Linked DNA regions of Homo sapiens. The protein of the gene in region 4 interacts with the protein of the main gene of each other region in a biochemical or structural test. Each region holds a gene or a part of one and is shown on either strand. Other genes may lie near its edges.

Region 1 (3,888 bases), on a different chromosome or scaffold from region 4:
CACAATGGTGAAGCCCAGAGGGATGGGGGCCGGGGCGTCACAGGGCAGGCTCCTGCTCCATGGGCTCCTCTGCCGGCCTGTGGGGCAAGCACAGGGGAGGGTATTGAGTGGGGCGCACCAGCAGGGGTGAGGGCAGAGAGGTGGTGCGGGTTGCTGCTTACCTGGGGCTGTGTTCCCGGGCTGCCGCAGCCTGGGCCTGCTCGGCCCCCACCGACAGCAAGGCCATGGCGCTCACAGTCTCGGCCTCCTCGGTCTCACCTGCTTGGGCCTCTCGCAGGGACCGGCCCAGACCAGCGGCGAACTTCTGCACACAGCTCCAGTGTTTGCCTGTGGACGAGAGACAGGCAAGGGGTCAGGGAGGGCAGAGGACACCCACATGAACAGTCCCAGTCCTGGTGCTCCCACAAGCTCCGTGCCCCCTTGGCAGCCTGAGCCCCTCTACGTGTCCTCACGCACTCTGGATCTCGATGACTTTCTCTAGCGTGGCCACTGCGTTGATGTTGGGCTTTTGCTGCAAGACTGCCTCATCCAAGGGCTGCAGCTGGCAGGGGAAAGAAGAGAAGGCTTAGGGTGGGGAGTAGGGTTGCCATGCATACCCCTCTAACTGCCCCACTCAGCCCCAGATATCCCTCACAACAGGGGCAAACATGGCCTTTTTGGACAAACGCATACTCAGAAAGCCTGGCCATTAGCTGTTCCTTAGGACCAAGGAAAAGCTTCCTAAGGGGCTCCCAGTGCTGGCTGACCCCTTGCTGGCCCCTCAGACCTCTGGCCTGCCACCTCCCAGCTCCTTCCCACCCCTTACCTCTACACTGAGCAGAGCCGAGACACAAGCCTCAGAGGCATCACAGATGGCGGTCAAGTCATGGCCTCCCTCCAGGGCCAGCACCACCCGGCCCCCTGCCAGGGTCATCAGCTGCCTGGTCAAGTGGCCAAAACCTTTGAGGATGGGTGAAGGGAGGAAGAAGAAATGGCGAAAGGTAATCAATCAATTCAAGAGCCAGTAAGAGGAGAGAAAAAAGGCCAGGCGCGGTGGCTCACGCCTGTAATCCCAGCACTTTGGGAGGCCAAGGCGGGCAGATCACAAGGTCAGGAGTTCGAGACCAGCCTGACCAACATGGTGAAACCCCGTCTCTACTAAAAATACAATAATTAGCCGGCCATGGTGGCACGCGCCTGTAATCCCAGCTACTTGGGAGGCTGAGGCAGGAGGATGGCATGAACCCAGGAGGCGGAGGTTGCAGTGAGCCGAGATCACGCCATTGCACTCCAGCCTGGGTGACAGAGTGAGACTCCACCTCAAAAAAAAAAAAAAAAAAAAAGAAAGAAAAGGAGAGAAAAAGAAACACAAGAGGTGGGACAAATAGCACAAAATGTGATGGGAGATATAAACCCAAATATATCCATAATAAAATACAGCATCAGTGAACTAAATGCCCTATCACAGTCAAAACATTAACAGACTGGCTGAAGACTCCAATCCAATGACAAGGAGCATCACTGAAACACCAGGGACCAACAAGCCCATCTCTACAGCTCCGGCAGGATACATCCTCTATCCTCTGCTACCCCACTGCCACCTCCTATCCCCTCAAGGCCGGGGTTGGCAGAGGACAAGTTGGGGGAGTTACCAAGATGATTCCAAGTCTAGGCCCTGCCCCCTGCTTTCCCCGTCTGCTGCAATATCAGTCTGTTCCCTGCCCCATGCCTCACTGGACTCGATATCCTCACTGTTTCACTTCCTCCCTCAATCCCCCAGCAGGCTTACATCTGGCGGTGACAGAGTAGCCACCCAGAGGAGACAGATGTCCTTCAACAGCATCAAACCCGGCGGAGACTAGGACCACATCAGGTGAGAACTCGTGGGCAATGGGCATCACCACTGTCCTGCAAAGGGATGGCTCAAGCTGAGCCCGGCAGATGACCAGGCCAGGCCTCGCCCCACTGTTATCCTCCCAGAGACAACCCCCTCTACCCACACTGAACTGAGTGCCTTCTGCCCCTCCCACTGCAGGGCCCAGAGGGGCTCCCACTGACTACCATGGCCCTTTTCAGTCCCTACCTGAAGGCTGTAAGGTACTCCACGTCTCCAATGGGGGGGTCCACACCTCCTGTCCATGCCACGTTCACATTGTACCCCACGCCTGGTCCTCCACCAACCTGGCACCAGAGTTGGGGAGAGGGCTATTCTCACCACCTGGGAGTCCCAAACATTGCCCCTGCCCTCACCCCTGCCTCCAGATCTCACTCCACTGACCTCTGCTCTGCCTGGAGGGGCAGTCAGATCAGTGTGGTCCTCCCACTAGGAGCCCAGACTCCCCAGGTACCAACACCACCATGGGCCTCCGTGGCTCCCCGCCAGGTCCCATTGTGCCACCTCCCAGAGGGGCCAGGAGGGTCTGCATTTACGCCCAGGAGCTGTACCTCTTCAGGAGCCCCAGAGCCTGGAAAGAAGTTCCCGTTGTCATAGCGATGCAGAGAGATGTAGAGCACAGAGGGGTCATTGTAGAACGCCTGCTGGGTGCCATTGCCATGGTGAATGTCCTATGAGGGGAGGTAGAAGCATCGGGAAAATGGCCCGCGCTCTGACCCAATGGTCAAATTCCACCTGTCAGCTGAGCACTGTAGCTCATGCCTGTAATCCTAGCATTTTGGGAGGCTGAGGGCTGGGAGGATCGCTTGAGCCCAGGACTCCACCCTTGGCCACAGGGCATCCATATTCTGTTCACAATGGTATTGCACACCCCACACTTCTCTAACTAGGTCTGAGCCTCTGTGGGGTGGCACTGTGTAGGTGATATTCAAAACCATGGGATAAATGTGGCATATCTCCCTACAGAACCCATTCCACCTCACAGTTTTGGGGAAAACATTAAGGCTAGTAGGGAATTTAAAACAGGCAGATGAGATTCTTTCTTTTTTTTTTTTGAGACCAAGTTTCACTCTTGTTGCCCAGGCTAGAGTGCAGTGGCACGATCTGGGCTCACTGCAACCTCCACCTCCCGGGTTCAAGCGATTCTCCTGCCTCAGCCTCCCGAGTAGCTGGGATTACAGGCGCCCACCACTATGCCCGGCCAATTTTTTTTGTATTTTTAGTAGAGATGGGGTTTCACCATGTTGGCCAGGCTGGTCTCAAACTCCTGACCTCAGGTGATCCACCCACCTCGGCCTCTCAAAGTGCTGGGATTACAGGCATGAGTCACTGTACCCGGCCTTTTTTGTTTTCCTTTTTCTTTTCTTTCTTTTTTTTTTTTTTTTGAGACAGAATCTCACTCTGTCATCGAGGCTGGAGTGCAGTGGCATGATCTTGACTCACTGCAACCTCCACTTCCCAGGTTCAAGGAATTCTCCTGCCTCAGCCTCCCCAATAGGTGGGATTACAGGCTCCCGCCACCACACCTAACTAATTTTTTTGAATTTTCAGTGGAGACAGGGTTTCACCATGTTGGCCATCCTGGTCTCGAACTCCTGACCCCAAGTGATTCACCCACCTTGGCCTCCCAAAATGCTGGGATTACAGGCTTTGAGCCATTGTGCCCAACCACAAGCACGTAAGATTCTGAAGGAGGATCCAACATTTACATGAATTTTTAAGCCAGAATTGGGCTTCCAAGAGATTTTGTCCTTCCTGAGGCTTGGTCCTGGCTACTTCCCCAGCTCACAGAGAGTGGTGTGTGCCTCTGCCTCCACCATTAGGAGCAGGGTTTGGGAAGCACCCATGGTAGCAAGAGCAGAGTGCTGGGGCCAAAAGCCTTGGTCTGAAACCCAGTGCCGACATCCCCAGCTGAGTGGCCTTGGGTAAGTCACGCAACAACACCTTTGTTCACAGAAATGGACATCCTCGTTCTTACTACTCGAGGTGGCCATAAAGTACTCATTGTGTTCCTG
Region 2 (3,888 bases), on a different chromosome or scaffold from region 4:
TACATGGCTAAGTGGAATATATATCAGATACTCAAGGGTGGGTCAGCATTAGAGAGTCAGTCAATCAACTATCCATCATACCATGAAGTCAAAGAAGAAAAATCTCATGAACATATAAATTGTCCCAGAAAAGACATTTGACAAAATACAACACACATTCATGAATAGACATGGACTATTGACTTGATAAAGAACATCCATAAAAATCCTATAGCTACATCATAATTGGTGGTAAAAACTCAGTGCTTTGCCCTTTAGGTCAGAATAAGGCAAGTTCTTGCAACTCTTATTGAATATAGCACTGGACATTCTAACCAGTACGGTAAGATAAGAAAAAGAAATAAAAAGTATATAAATTGGAAAGAAGAAATAAAACTATCCAATTTGCAGATAACATGATGATCTACATAGACAATCCCAAGAAATCTACCAAAAAAAATCCTCCTAGATCTAATAAGGCAGCTCAGTAGGTTGCAGAATGTGGACTGACACATAAAAATTACTCACAGTTCTACCTACTCCACAATAAACGTGGAAACTGAAGTTAAGACACAATGCCATTTAGAAATGCCCCAAAGAAAATAAAACACTTATGTACACTGTAAAGAAATTTCAGATTCAGAATCTGTGCACTGAAATTTATAAAACATTGATGAAAGAAGTTAAAGAAGACCTAATTACCCATAGAGAGACAACCTGTGATCATGGATTGGAAAACTCAACACAGTAGAACTATTAATTCTCCCTAATCTATACATTTGAAGAAATTCCTATCAAAATCCCAGCAAGGTTTTTGCACCCATAAACGCGCTATTCTAAAATTCATATGGAAAGGCCCAGAACCTACAATAGCTAACATAAGTTTTATAAAGAATAATAAAGTGGAAGGAAGTCACTCCACCTGATTAAAGTTGACTATGCAACTACAGTAATCAAGACAGTGTGCTCTTGGCAGAGAGACTGACATATAGACTAATGGAACAGAATAGAGAACCCAGAAATAGACCCACAGCAATAAGTGGAAACGGTTTTTAGCAAAGGTGCAAAAGCAATTTAATGGAAGAAGGATCACCTTTTCAACTAATAGTCCCGGAGCTATTGGACATTCGTTGGCAAAACCCAAACCAAACCAAAACAAATAAGCCTCAACCTAAACCTCACACCTCATACAAAAATTAACTCAAAATGGAAAATAGGCTTAAGTATAAAATGTGAAACTATAAAATTTGTAGGGAAAAAAGGAGAAAATCTTCGGGAACCTCAGGCTAGGTGAAGACTTAGACTTCACACCAAAAATCAAAATCCAAAAAAGGTAAAATTAATAAACTTGAATTCAACAAAATGTAAAACTTTCTGCAAAGGACTCTGTGAAGAGGGTGAAAAAACAAGATAAAGTGGTAGAAAATAATCACCGAGTGGTAAGGCCAGCATCTAGAAAATATAAAGAATTAGGAAAACTCAGTTGTTAAAACCAAACAATCCAATTAAAAAGTAGGCAAAAGACATGAACAGACTTTTCACTGAGGAGGATACACAGATGGCCATAAGTACATAAAAAGGTCTTGATGTCATTAGCCATCAGGACAATGCAAATTAAACCATCAGGAGATATCACTACACACTTATTAGAAGAGCTAAAATAATAAAAAAAAAAAATAGTGGCAATACCAAATGCTGCCCAGGCTGGGAAGGTCCTGAATCACTCACACACCGCCGGTGGGAATGCAAAATGGTGTAGCCATTCTGGAAAAGAGTTAGCAGTTTCTCATAAAATTAGACATGTGCTAACCATATGACTCAGCAATTGCACTCCTGGGCATTTATCCCAGAGAAATGAAAACTATGTTCACACAAAAACCTGTACAAGAATGTTCACAGCAGCTCTATTTGCAATAACCAAAACCTGGAAATAATCCAAGTGCCCTTCCTGGGTGAACGGTTGAACACACCTTGGTTCATCCAGATGACGGAACACCACTAAGTAATTAAAAAGAAACACCTATGGACATGCTTGCCAACCCGGATGGGTCTCAAGGGAATTGCGTTTAGCGGAAAAAGCCAGTCTCGAAAGGTTGCATAGTGTATGATTCCATTTATAGAGCATTCTTAAAGCGACAAAATTATAGAAAATAGGAACCATACTGTGGTTGCCAGCCTCAGGGAGGGGGAAGGAGGAAGTCAGCTTGGCTATAAAGAGTAGCATCAAGGATCCTGTGATGAAACTCTCCTGTCCTCTGATGTGTTGGTGGTCACATGGTTCTACATGGGTGATAAAATTACAGAGAACTAAGCGCACGTGCATACCACACACACACACACACACACACACACACAGAGCAGTCTATAAAATGAGTACATGTAAACTGGTGGAATCTGAAATCTGAACAAAGTTAATGGGTTGTATCAATGCTCATTTTCTAGTTGTGGCATTGTACTATGGTTTTGTAAGATGTTATTGTTGGGAGAAACTGGTGAAGGGAATTGCATGTGAATCTACATGATCTCAAAACAGGGTTTTACTACATTGCTTCAGTGAATATCCACTGTGTGTGTCTTATGCACACAGACCAGGTTTTCCCTAGAGGAGATACCTAGAAGTGGAATTGTTAGATCTTAGGATACACCCACCTTCACTTTTTCTAGATTATTCTCTAACATCTTTGTTCCTATTTACATTCTAGTCGAACTCATGTGAGGTCTAAGTTTTCTACACCTTCTCTAATATTTGGTATAGTCACAATTTAAATTTTTTTCCAGTACCGTAAAGGTAAAAAAAAATCTTTTTGCCATCTTAGTTTTGAATTCCCTGATTCCCAGAGGGTTAAAGTCCTTTTCTTATTTTATCAGTCCATCTGGGTTTTCTCATTAGTCTCATATTTTACTCTTGAGTGGCTTGTTTCAAATTACCACATTTTAGAACTGTTTCTGTATTCTAGATCCTGGCCTCACATAGGTCTGTTTCTCCTCATCTTTTAGATATCCACCTATTTTTCACAATGGTGACTCAGACCAACGCAGTGCTATTCACAGAGTCCAGAACAAAAGAACATTCGGAATGACATTTTTACGCTTTAATGGCTATTGAGTGTGAGACATTACTAATAGCTTTGGAACATGCACTCGTGGTTGTTGCTGGCATGTGGGAGATGTTGCTGTGGAAGGCAGCTTCAGTCGGCCGGGGAGATCAGCTGCCTTCTGGCTGGCCTGTCCTACAGACGTCCCACAAACCTGGCCAGCCCACCTCTGCATAAGCCATTCCTTGCCATGAGTCTCTAATGTGTATCTCCACCTGCTTCTGTTTCTCTGGATGAAGCCTGTCCACTACAGGTTTTGACAGAGATTTAAAATCTCCTGTAGAGACTATTCCAGCTACTCGCCTGGCATTTCTGCTCAGCTGGCATTAGGGCCTGTGGCATGAGCACTCTTCCCTTAAACAGCTCCAGAGCTTCCTTCACGGGTTCCAATGGGCCAACAGAAGTGTCTTACTACTTAATGGCCACTTATTTAAAATTATCCCAAGAGTAATTAGAGGCCAGGCGCGGTGGCTCATGCCTGTAATCCCAGCACTTTGGGAGGCCGAGGTGGGTGGATCACTTGAGGTCAGGAGTTTGAGACCAGCCTGGCCAACATGGTGAGGCCCCATCTTTACTAAAAAACAAAAACAAACAAAAAAACGCAAAAATCAGCCAGGTGTGGTGGTGCGCCCCTATAGTCCCAGCTACTGGGGAGGCTGAGGCAGGAGACTGTTTTGGATCCAGAAGGTGGAGGTTGCAGTGAGCCGAGATTGCACCACTGCACTCCAGCCTGGGTGACAGAGCAAGACTCTGTCAAAAAAAAAAAAAAGAAAAAGAAAAGGAGTAATTAGAATATTTTCTTTTCTTTTTTATT
Region 3 (4,519 bases), on a different chromosome or scaffold from region 4:
CTCCAAGGCCTCCTGATGTGTGTCTCTATTTAGAACTTAATCCAACCTACCCAACATCAGATCAGTGTCTTACCAGCCCAAGGTCCCTGGGGAGCCTCCTAGAGGGAGAGAGCCCTGCCCACCCAGATTGAGGGTAAAGGCCTCCCCGTGCTCATTTTTGTACCACCACAGTGCTTGGCACATGGTAGACATCAAAATGTGTGTGCTGAAAGTATAATTGAAGTTGTGTATATATGTCAGCTAGAGTGTCTGGAGGGGCAGAAATGTGGGTCTAAAACATACAAATGCTCCAAATGGGGTGTGGGCAAGGGTCTGTCTACACCAGGCTGTGATTACCTGCTCACATACATGTGTCTATCTGAGTAGGGGTATGTTATCTATTTTTCTACACCACAGGGTGAGGAACAGGTATATGTGTGCATGTGTATGCATCCGTGTGTGTGTGTATGTGTGTGTGCATGAGTGTGTGTGTGTGTGTCCAAAGCCACCTCTTCAACCTGTGCCATTTGTATCTGTGTCTGGCCCAATGAGAGTGTTGAAAGGTGAGCCACAAGATAAAACAGCAACTTCCTACCTCCCTTATCAAGACAGCTGTCTGACCTACCTCCCCTTGGCCACTCTTGGGATTACTGGGGTTGGCTTCAGTATTTTCAGATTTTTCAGAAGGGGAGGAGAATGCTTGAGTCTCATCCAGGAACTTAGGCAGTTCTCAGCACTGCCTGCTCCTCCTCCCTCAAATAACCAAGTCTGAAGACCAGGAGAGAAAGCCGCTGGTGGACTGGTCACCTGTCTGGCAGTGGGAGGAGGAGAGTGAGAGGTTTCTAGGTTAGGAATCCAGACTTAGACCCTCCCCTCCACCCCCAGATGGGTGGTGCACAGGCTCATCTCGCGGCCCCTCCCCACTCCACCCTAACATGGATACGCCCCCAACAACCAAGGAAAGATCTCCCATCGGCTGACTCCACAGATACACACATGTCCCCACAGACACACACACGCCCATGCAGAGGCACAGACATCCAGGCACATCTTTCCCTTTCTCTGTCTTTCCCTTGGTTTGAATTTCGTTTAGCCACATATGTTGTGTGTGCGTGAGGGTGGGTGGGGGAGGGGCAGACAGGGATGAGGGATGGCATGGTGCCAACATCTACCTATGGGGCTCGGGCCAGGGACGCCCCTTACAGCCATCCTGGGAGGGGGTCTCAGCTGTCCCTTTGTGGCCAAGGGGACCCTCCTGGGGAGTGGGGGCAAGCACAGAGGTCCTTTCTCCCCAACCCGGGGTCTGGTCCCTGACCCACCTTGGGGGCCTGCAGGGGAGGAAATGGACAGAGCGGGACCCTGAGGGAGCATAGAATTGGCCACCACGAGCCCCCAGTGTCCAGCCTTGCCACCCCATTGTTCCCGTGAGGGGGTCTCTATATACAGGGGGCAACTCCTCCCACCTTCCTCTCAATCCCTGCTTTCCCTGCGTTGGGCGGGGAGGGGAGGGCGGCAGAAATATTTATTTATTTCCTTTATTTATTTAATTTTTTTTTTTTTTTTTGGAGTAGAGAGTGACAGATGGCGGCGGGTCCCGGGGGAGCCGGCTCTCCCCCAGTGCAGACGCATGCCAATCACCGTCTCTCATGTGATAGCTGCTGCCCGTGACGTGCCAAGCCCATATGGCCTGGCATAGAGGCTGGTACCCCGCCTGGTAGAGATGCCACACTCGCTCCGCGGTTCGCATGGCGCTCTGAAGACGCCGGCGCCCGCCGCCTTGAGGAGCCGCTGCCCCCGCTCCCTGAAGATGGGGGAACAATGAAATAAGCGAGAAGATCCCTCTTCTCCCCCCTCTCTCTCTTGCCCCCTCCCCCCCTCCCCTCCCCTCTCCCCTTGACTCCTCTCCGAGGTAAGTTGTCCGAAAGGGAGCGAGATCTGACCCGCCGGTTGGGAGGAGGGGCGGCAGCTTCGGCCGACAGGAGGGTCCTCAAATACCTCCTTCCTGGGATGATGCCCCCCTCATTGGGTGGGCATCGGAGGGGCCCCAGGTTCTCTCTCCCTTAGGGGCTGCAGCCCAGGGGGCTGCAGAGGAGGTGTCTCTGCCTGCGATGGGCTCGGTGGGGGGGGAAGGCAGGATCACGGAGGGGGATATGCGAAGAGGCCGAGACGGAGGACCCCTCCATGGTTGTCCCAAAAAGCCTGCCACCTTTCCCCACCACCGAAAAAAGGGAAGCAAACAAACAAATTTGGATTTTTCCCCCATCAATCCCAAAATACAACGAGATCTGAAGAGCCTTGTGGGAGGGAGTCAGCTTGAAGGGGGAAGGGGGTCCCTGACCGCAGAGGGGACGGACTGGGCTCGCTTCTCTCAGTCTCCTCCCCACGCCCCGCTGCTTCAGTCCTCGCCGCCCAGAGCCGGCTCCGGGAGCTGGGGACGCATCGGCTAGAGGAGACGATCCTCCCGCCTCTGGAATTGGGGGTGCGGGGGTGGGGGCCGAGCAAGGGGCGGCGCGCAGCCAAGTTGCAAATTGGATTAGGGAGCGTGGGGGTGAGAGCCACGGGAGGGGTGAGGGAGCTGGGCCGGGGGGCCCGGGCCGCGAGAGCGCGGAGCGGGGCAGCTGTCCCCACCGGCGGCCGACCAGCCTCTCTCCACCGCCAGGAGAGAACGGGCTTTCAGGGCGAGCGCGCCGCCTCCCCTGGCAAAGATATCTGGTCCCTAAAACCCCCACCCGGTCCCTGCCCTGACCCTGAGAAGAAGCAGGCGCGGGGAGCAGCCCCCCATTCAAGCGAGGGGCGGAGCCGGGGCCCAGCGCCGGGGAGAGGGCCTGGGCCGAGATCCCAGGCCGGCAGCCGGGTAGGGCTGGGCCGGCTCTGGGCGGGGCAGGCGGCGGAGGTGGGCATCCAGGGTAGCCTAGGCAGGAGCCCGCACGAGACTCGGGGGTGGAGGAGGGTTGTGGGGGGGCGTCGGTACCCCAGCGCGCCCCTCACTTTGTGCTGTCTGTCTCCCCTTCCCGCCCGCGGGGCGCCCTCAGGCACCATGCTGACCCGCCTGTTCAGCGAGCCCGGCCTTCTCTCGGACGTGCCCAAGTTCGCCAGCTGGGGCGACGGCGAAGACGACGAGCCGAGGAGCGACAAGGGCGACGCGCCGCCACCGCCACCGCCTGCGCCCGGGCCAGGGGCTCCGGGGCCAGCCCGGGCGGCCAAGCCAGTCCCTCTCCGTGGAGAAGAGGGGACGGAGGCCACGTTGGCCGAGGTCAAGGAGGAAGGCGAGCTGGGGGGAGAGGAGGAGGAGGAAGAGGAGGAGGAAGAAGGACTGGACGAGGCGGAGGGCGAGCGGCCCAAGAAGCGCGGGCCCAAGAAGCGCAAGATGACCAAGGCGCGCTTGGAGCGCTCCAAGCTTCGGCGGCAGAAGGCGAACGCGCGGGAGCGCAACCGCATGCACGACCTGAACGCAGCCCTGGACAACCTGCGCAAGGTGGTGCCCTGCTACTCCAAGACGCAGAAGCTGTCCAAGATCGAGACGCTGCGCCTAGCCAAGAACTATATCTGGGCGCTCTCGGAGATCCTGCGCTCCGGCAAGCGGCCAGACCTAGTGTCCTACGTGCAGACTCTGTGCAAGGGTCTGTCGCAGCCCACCACCAATCTGGTGGCCGGCTGTCTGCAGCTCAACTCTCGCAACTTCCTCACGGAGCAAGGCGCCGACGGTGCCGGCCGCTTCCACGGCTCGGGCGGCCCGTTCGCCATGCACCCCTACCCGTACCCGTGCTCGCGCCTGGCGGGCGCACAGTGCCAGGCGGCCGGCGGCCTGGGCGGCGGCGCGGCGCACGCCCTGCGGACCCACGGCTACTGCGCCGCCTACGAGACGCTGTATGCGGCGGCAGGCGGTGGCGGCGCGAGCCCGGACTACAACAGCTCCGAGTACGAGGGCCCGCTCAGCCCCCCGCTCTGTCTCAATGGCAACTTCTCACTCAAGCAGGACTCCTCGCCCGACCACGAGAAAAGCTACCACTACTCTATGCACTACTCGGCGCTGCCCGGTTCGCGGCCCACGGGCCACGGGCTAGTCTTCGGCTCGTCGGCTGTGCGCGGGGGCGTCCACTCGGAGAATCTCTTGTCTTACGATATGCACCTTCACCACGACCGGGGCCCCATGTACGAGGAGCTCAATGCGTTTTTTCATAACTGAGACTTCGCGCCGGCTCCCTTCTTTTTCTTTTGCCTTTGCCCGCCCCCCTGTCCCCAGCCCCCAGAGCGCAGGGACACCCCCATCCTACCCCGGCGCCGGGCGCGGGGAGCGGGCCACCGGTCCTGCCGCTCTCCTGGGGCAGCGCAGTCCTGTTACCTGTGGGTGGCCTGTCCCAGGGGCCTCGCTTCCCCCAGGGGACTCGCCTTCTCTCTCCCCAAGGGGTTCCCTCCTCCTCTCTCCCAAGGAGTGCTTCTCCAGGGACCTCTCTCCGGGGGCTCCCTGGAGGCACCCCTCCCCCATTCCCAATATCTTCGCTGAGGTTTCCTCCTCCCCCTCCTCCCTGCAGGCCCAAGG
Region 4 (3,888 bases):
CTACTGAAAAAAAAAAAAAAAAAGAAAAAGATAATAGACATGCCCCTTTCTGCCAGGATTTTCTTTCTTTTTCTTTTTTTTTTTTCTTTTTTTTTTTTTTTGAGATGGAGCTTCACTCTTGTTGCCCAGGCTGGAGTGCAGTGGCGTGATCTCGGCTCACTGCAACCTCTGCCTCCTGGGTTCAAGGGATTCTCCTGCCTCAGCCTCCCGAGTAACTGGGATTACAGGCATGTGCAACCACGCCTGGGTAATTTTTTATTTTTAGTAGACATGGGGTTTCACCATGTTGGTCAGGCTGGTCTCAAACTTCTGACCTCAGGTGATCCACCTGCCTCAGCCTCCGAAAGTGTTGAGATTACAGGCATGAGCCACTGTGCCTGGCCGTTTTTATTTTCTCTTCTCTTCTCTTCTCTCTTTTCGACCGAGTCTTGCTGTGTCACGCAGGCTGGAGCGCAGTAGCACGATCTTGGCTCACTACAACCTCTGCCTCCTGGGTTCAAGTGATTCTCCTTCCTCAGCCTCCCGAGTAGCTGGCATTACAGGCGCGTGCCACCACGCCCAGCTAATTTTTTGTATTTTTAGTAGAGACGGGGTTTCGCTATGATGGCCAGGCTGGTCTTGAACTCCTGGCCTCAAGTGATCGCCTGCCTCAACCTCCTAAAGTGCCGGGATTACAGGCATGAGCAACCTTGTCTGGCTACTGCCAGCATTTTCTGACTGGGCCCTCTCTCCCATTTCAGGTGAAGTCAGCACTGTGCTTAAGCTGGATAACACAGTGGTGGGGCAGACGTCTTGGAAGCCATGTGGCCCCAATGCCTGGGACCAGAGCTTCACTCTGGAGCTGGAAAGGGTGAGCTGCGTTGGAGGACAGCAGGGCCTAGAGGAGGAGGGGTTCCATGCCTCTGGCACCCTGAGTGATGGCCCTCTTCCTCTCCCTCCAGGCACGGGAACTGGAGTTGGCTGTGTTCTGGCGGGACCAGCGGGGCCTGTGTGCCCTCAAATTCCTGAAGTTGGAGGATTTCTTGGACAATGAGAGGCATGAGGTGCAGCTGGACATGGAACCCCAGGGCTGCCTGGTGGCTGAGGTATAGCCCACACCTGACCCTGAGAAAATGCTTCTTCTCCCTCACTGCCCCATTCCCAGTTTCCTAGAAGGGGAAAATATGTTTTAGGTCTGGCTCTTCCAGAAGGGGAAGATAAGTTTTAAGTCAGGCTTTTCTAGAAGAGGAAAATAGATTTTAGATCCAGCTCTTCTAGAAACGGAAGATATGTTTTAACTCTGCCTTTTCTAGAAGGAGAAGATACGTTTTAGGTCAGGCTCTTCCAGAAGGGGAAGAGACGTTTTAGGTCTGCTTTTTTCTAGAAGGGAAAGATATGTTTTAGATCAGGCTCTTCTAGAAAGGGAAGATAGGCTTTTGATCTGCCTGTTCTAGGCTGGGCGTGGTGGCTCATGCCTGTAATCCCAGCACTTCGGAAGGCTGAGGCAGGAGGATCACCTGAGGTCAGGGAGACCAGCCTGGGCAACATGGTAAAACCGCGTCTCAACTAAAAGTACAAAATTAGCTGGGCGTCGTGGCACATGCCTTTAGTCCCAGCTACTTGGGAGGCTGAGACAGGAGAATCGCTTGAACCCAGGAGGCGGAGGCTGCAGTGAGCTGAGATCCCACCACTGCACTCCAGCCTGGGCGACAGAGTGAGACTCTGTCGCCCAGGAGTCTCACAAAAAAAAAAAAGATCTGCTTGTTCTAGAAGGGGAAGATACATTTTAGATCAGGCTCTTTTAGAAGCATAAGATATGTTTTAGATATGGTTTCTCTTAATACAGAAAGATAGTTTTAGATCAGGCTCTTTCAGAAGTGGCAGGTATGTTTTAGACCCGTGTATTCTAGAAGGGGAAGATACATTTTAGATCTGTCTCTGAACCTTGATAGAAAAGTACACCTTGGCCAGGTGTGGTGGCTCACGCCTGTAATCCCAGCACTTTGGGAGGCTGAGGCAGGTGGATCACTTGAGGCCAGGAGTTCCAGACTAGCCTGGCCAACATGGTGAAACCCCATCTCTATTAAAAATACAAAAATTAGCTGGGCATGATAGTGGGTACCTGTAATCCCAGCTACTTGGGAGGCTGAGGCAGGAGAATTGCTTGAACCCAGGAGACAGAGGTTGCAGTGAGCTGAGATCACGCCATTGCACTCCAGCCTGGGCAACAGAGTGAGACTCTTGTCTCAAAAAAAAAAAAAAAAGAAGAAGAAGAAGAAGAAAAGCACTTCTAATTAGCCACATCAGTGATAGGACCTTAGCTGGGATTGGTTTTGTTCTGAGGCAAGATACTTAAAAAAAAAAAAAAAGAAGAAGAAGAAGCTGATTTCCAAATTTAGAAATGTTTAAAGAAAAAAGGAAATAAATTATAAAATTTCTTCCAACCAGGAAAGAGATACAAAACCTGGCAACATATCGTGGTGATTGCTACCAGAGCCACAGTCAAGAGAAAGTGATTCCTTCCACAGCTGTGTGAGGGTGAAGGTCTGAATTGAGGTGGCCTACCCTTGGCACTGTTGACATCTGGGGCCACATCATCCTCTGTGGTGGGGCTGTCCTGCATACTAGAGGATGTAGCACCTCTCCCCACTGCTTACAGGATGTCAGTAGCACCACCTCCCCCTGAGTTTTGACAGCCCAGAGGTCTCCAGACACTGTCAAGTGCTCCCTGGCCGGGAACCCCTGGTCTAAATGACATTTCTAGCTGAGTTCTCATAGTATAAGCCAGGCTCTGTAGCGAGTACTTTGGCGACGTGAACTCATTAATTCTCACAACCAACCAACAAAAGAGGGACTGTTATTACTCAAATTTGACAGAGGAGGAAACTGGGGCACAGAGAAGGGGCACTTGACCCCTCATTTAGCCAAATTATCCTAAAAAACTCTTTTAATCTTCCGCTAACCTATATGTGTACCCCATTTTACATATATATATGATAGATTACCTATATATGTATACACACACATATTATCTATTATTTACCCACCTACGTGTCCATCCATCCATTTTGTCTGTCTATGCATTCATCCATCCATCTTTTTTTTTTTTTTTTTTTTTTGAGATGGAGTCTCGCTGTCTCCCAGGCTGGAGTGCAGTGGTGCGATCTTGGCTCACTGCAACCTCTGCTTCCCGGGTTCATGCCATTCTCCTGCCTCAGCCTCCCGAGTAGCTGGGACTACAGGCACCCGCTACCACGCCCGGATAATTTTTTGTATTTTTAGTAGAGACGGGGTTTCACCCACCGTGTTAGCCAGGATGGTCTCCATCTCCTGACCTCGTGATCTGCCCGCCTTGGCCTCCCAAAGTGCTGGGATTACCGGCGTGAGCCACCGCGCCCGGCCCAGCCATCTTATCAATGCATCCTCTATCCATTGATAGATACACCTATATTATCTGTCTTATCTATGTATCCATCTATATTAGGTATCTATATCATCTATTTATCTAATCCATCTATCCATTTATCTATCTCTATCTATATATTATCTATCAACCAATCTATTTTTCCATGCATCCGTCTCTATTATCTGTCAGTCATCTTATCCATCAATCTTATGTATGCATCATCCATCCATCTATCCATCCCTGTATATTTCTCTGTATATATATCTACCCATTCCTCTCTCTATCTCTATCTATCCCTCTCTATATCTATCTGTGCCTCTGTTTTTCTCTATATAGCTATATCTATCTATCCATCCATCTATATTATCTATCAACTAATCTATCTTTCCGTCTACCCATCTGTCTATATTATCTATCCATCTATATTATCTATCTATCATCTTATCCATCCATCCATTTATCTTATCTATGCTCATCCCTCCATCCATCCATCTCTGTATATT

Evidence for each region.
Region 1: of the proteins of PKN1 (region 4) and HDAC5, one has a biochemical effect on the other in vitro, tested with the Homo sapiens proteins (one study listed by BioGRID).
Region 2: of the proteins of PKN1 (region 4) and MBP, one has a biochemical effect on the other in vitro, tested with the Homo sapiens proteins (one study listed by BioGRID).
Region 3: the proteins of PKN1 (region 4) and NEUROD2 form a complex in vitro, tested with the Homo sapiens proteins (one study listed by BioGRID).

Annotation. Positions count from the first base shown.
Region 1 is NC_000017.11:44,078,339-44,082,226, forward strand, and holds part of HDAC5 (histone deacetylase 5), read right to left. Parts: intron 2,545-3,888; coding exon 2,425-2,544; intron 2,161-2,424; coding exon 2,063-2,160; intron 1,888-2,062; coding exon 1,769-1,887; intron 940-1,768; coding exon 806-939; intron 542-805; coding exon 457-541; intron 328-456; coding exon 162-327; intron 78-161; coding exon 38-77; 3' UTR 1-37. UniProt on the Homo sapiens protein: Responsible for the deacetylation of lysine residues on the N-terminal part of the core histones (H2A, H2B, H3 and H4).
Region 2 is NC_000018.10:77,126,218-77,130,105, forward strand, and holds part of MBP (Golli-MBP), read right to left. Parts: exon of another isoform or gene 2,143-3,888; intron 1,432-2,142; exon of another isoform or gene 1-1,431. UniProt on the Homo sapiens protein: The classic group of MBP isoforms (isoform 4-isoform 14) are with PLP the most abundant protein components of the myelin membrane in the CNS. They have a role in both its formation and stabilization.
Region 3 is NC_000017.11:39,605,097-39,609,615, reverse strand, and holds the start of NEUROD2 (neurogenic differentiation factor 2), read left to right. Parts: upstream 1-1,695; 5' UTR 1,696-1,888; intron 1,889-3,011; 5' UTR 3,012-3,016; coding exon 3,017-4,165; 3' UTR 4,166-4,519. UniProt on the Homo sapiens protein: Transcriptional regulator implicated in neuronal determination. Mediates calcium-dependent transcription activation by binding to E box-containing promoter.
Region 4 is NC_000019.10:14,457,291-14,461,178, forward strand, and holds part of PKN1 (serine/threonine-protein kinase N1), read left to right. Parts: intron 1-740; coding exon 741-850; intron 851-941; coding exon 942-1,085; intron 1,086-3,888. UniProt on the Homo sapiens protein: PKC-related serine/threonine-protein kinase involved in various processes such as regulation of the intermediate filaments of the actin cytoskeleton, cell migration, tumor cell invasion and transcription regulation.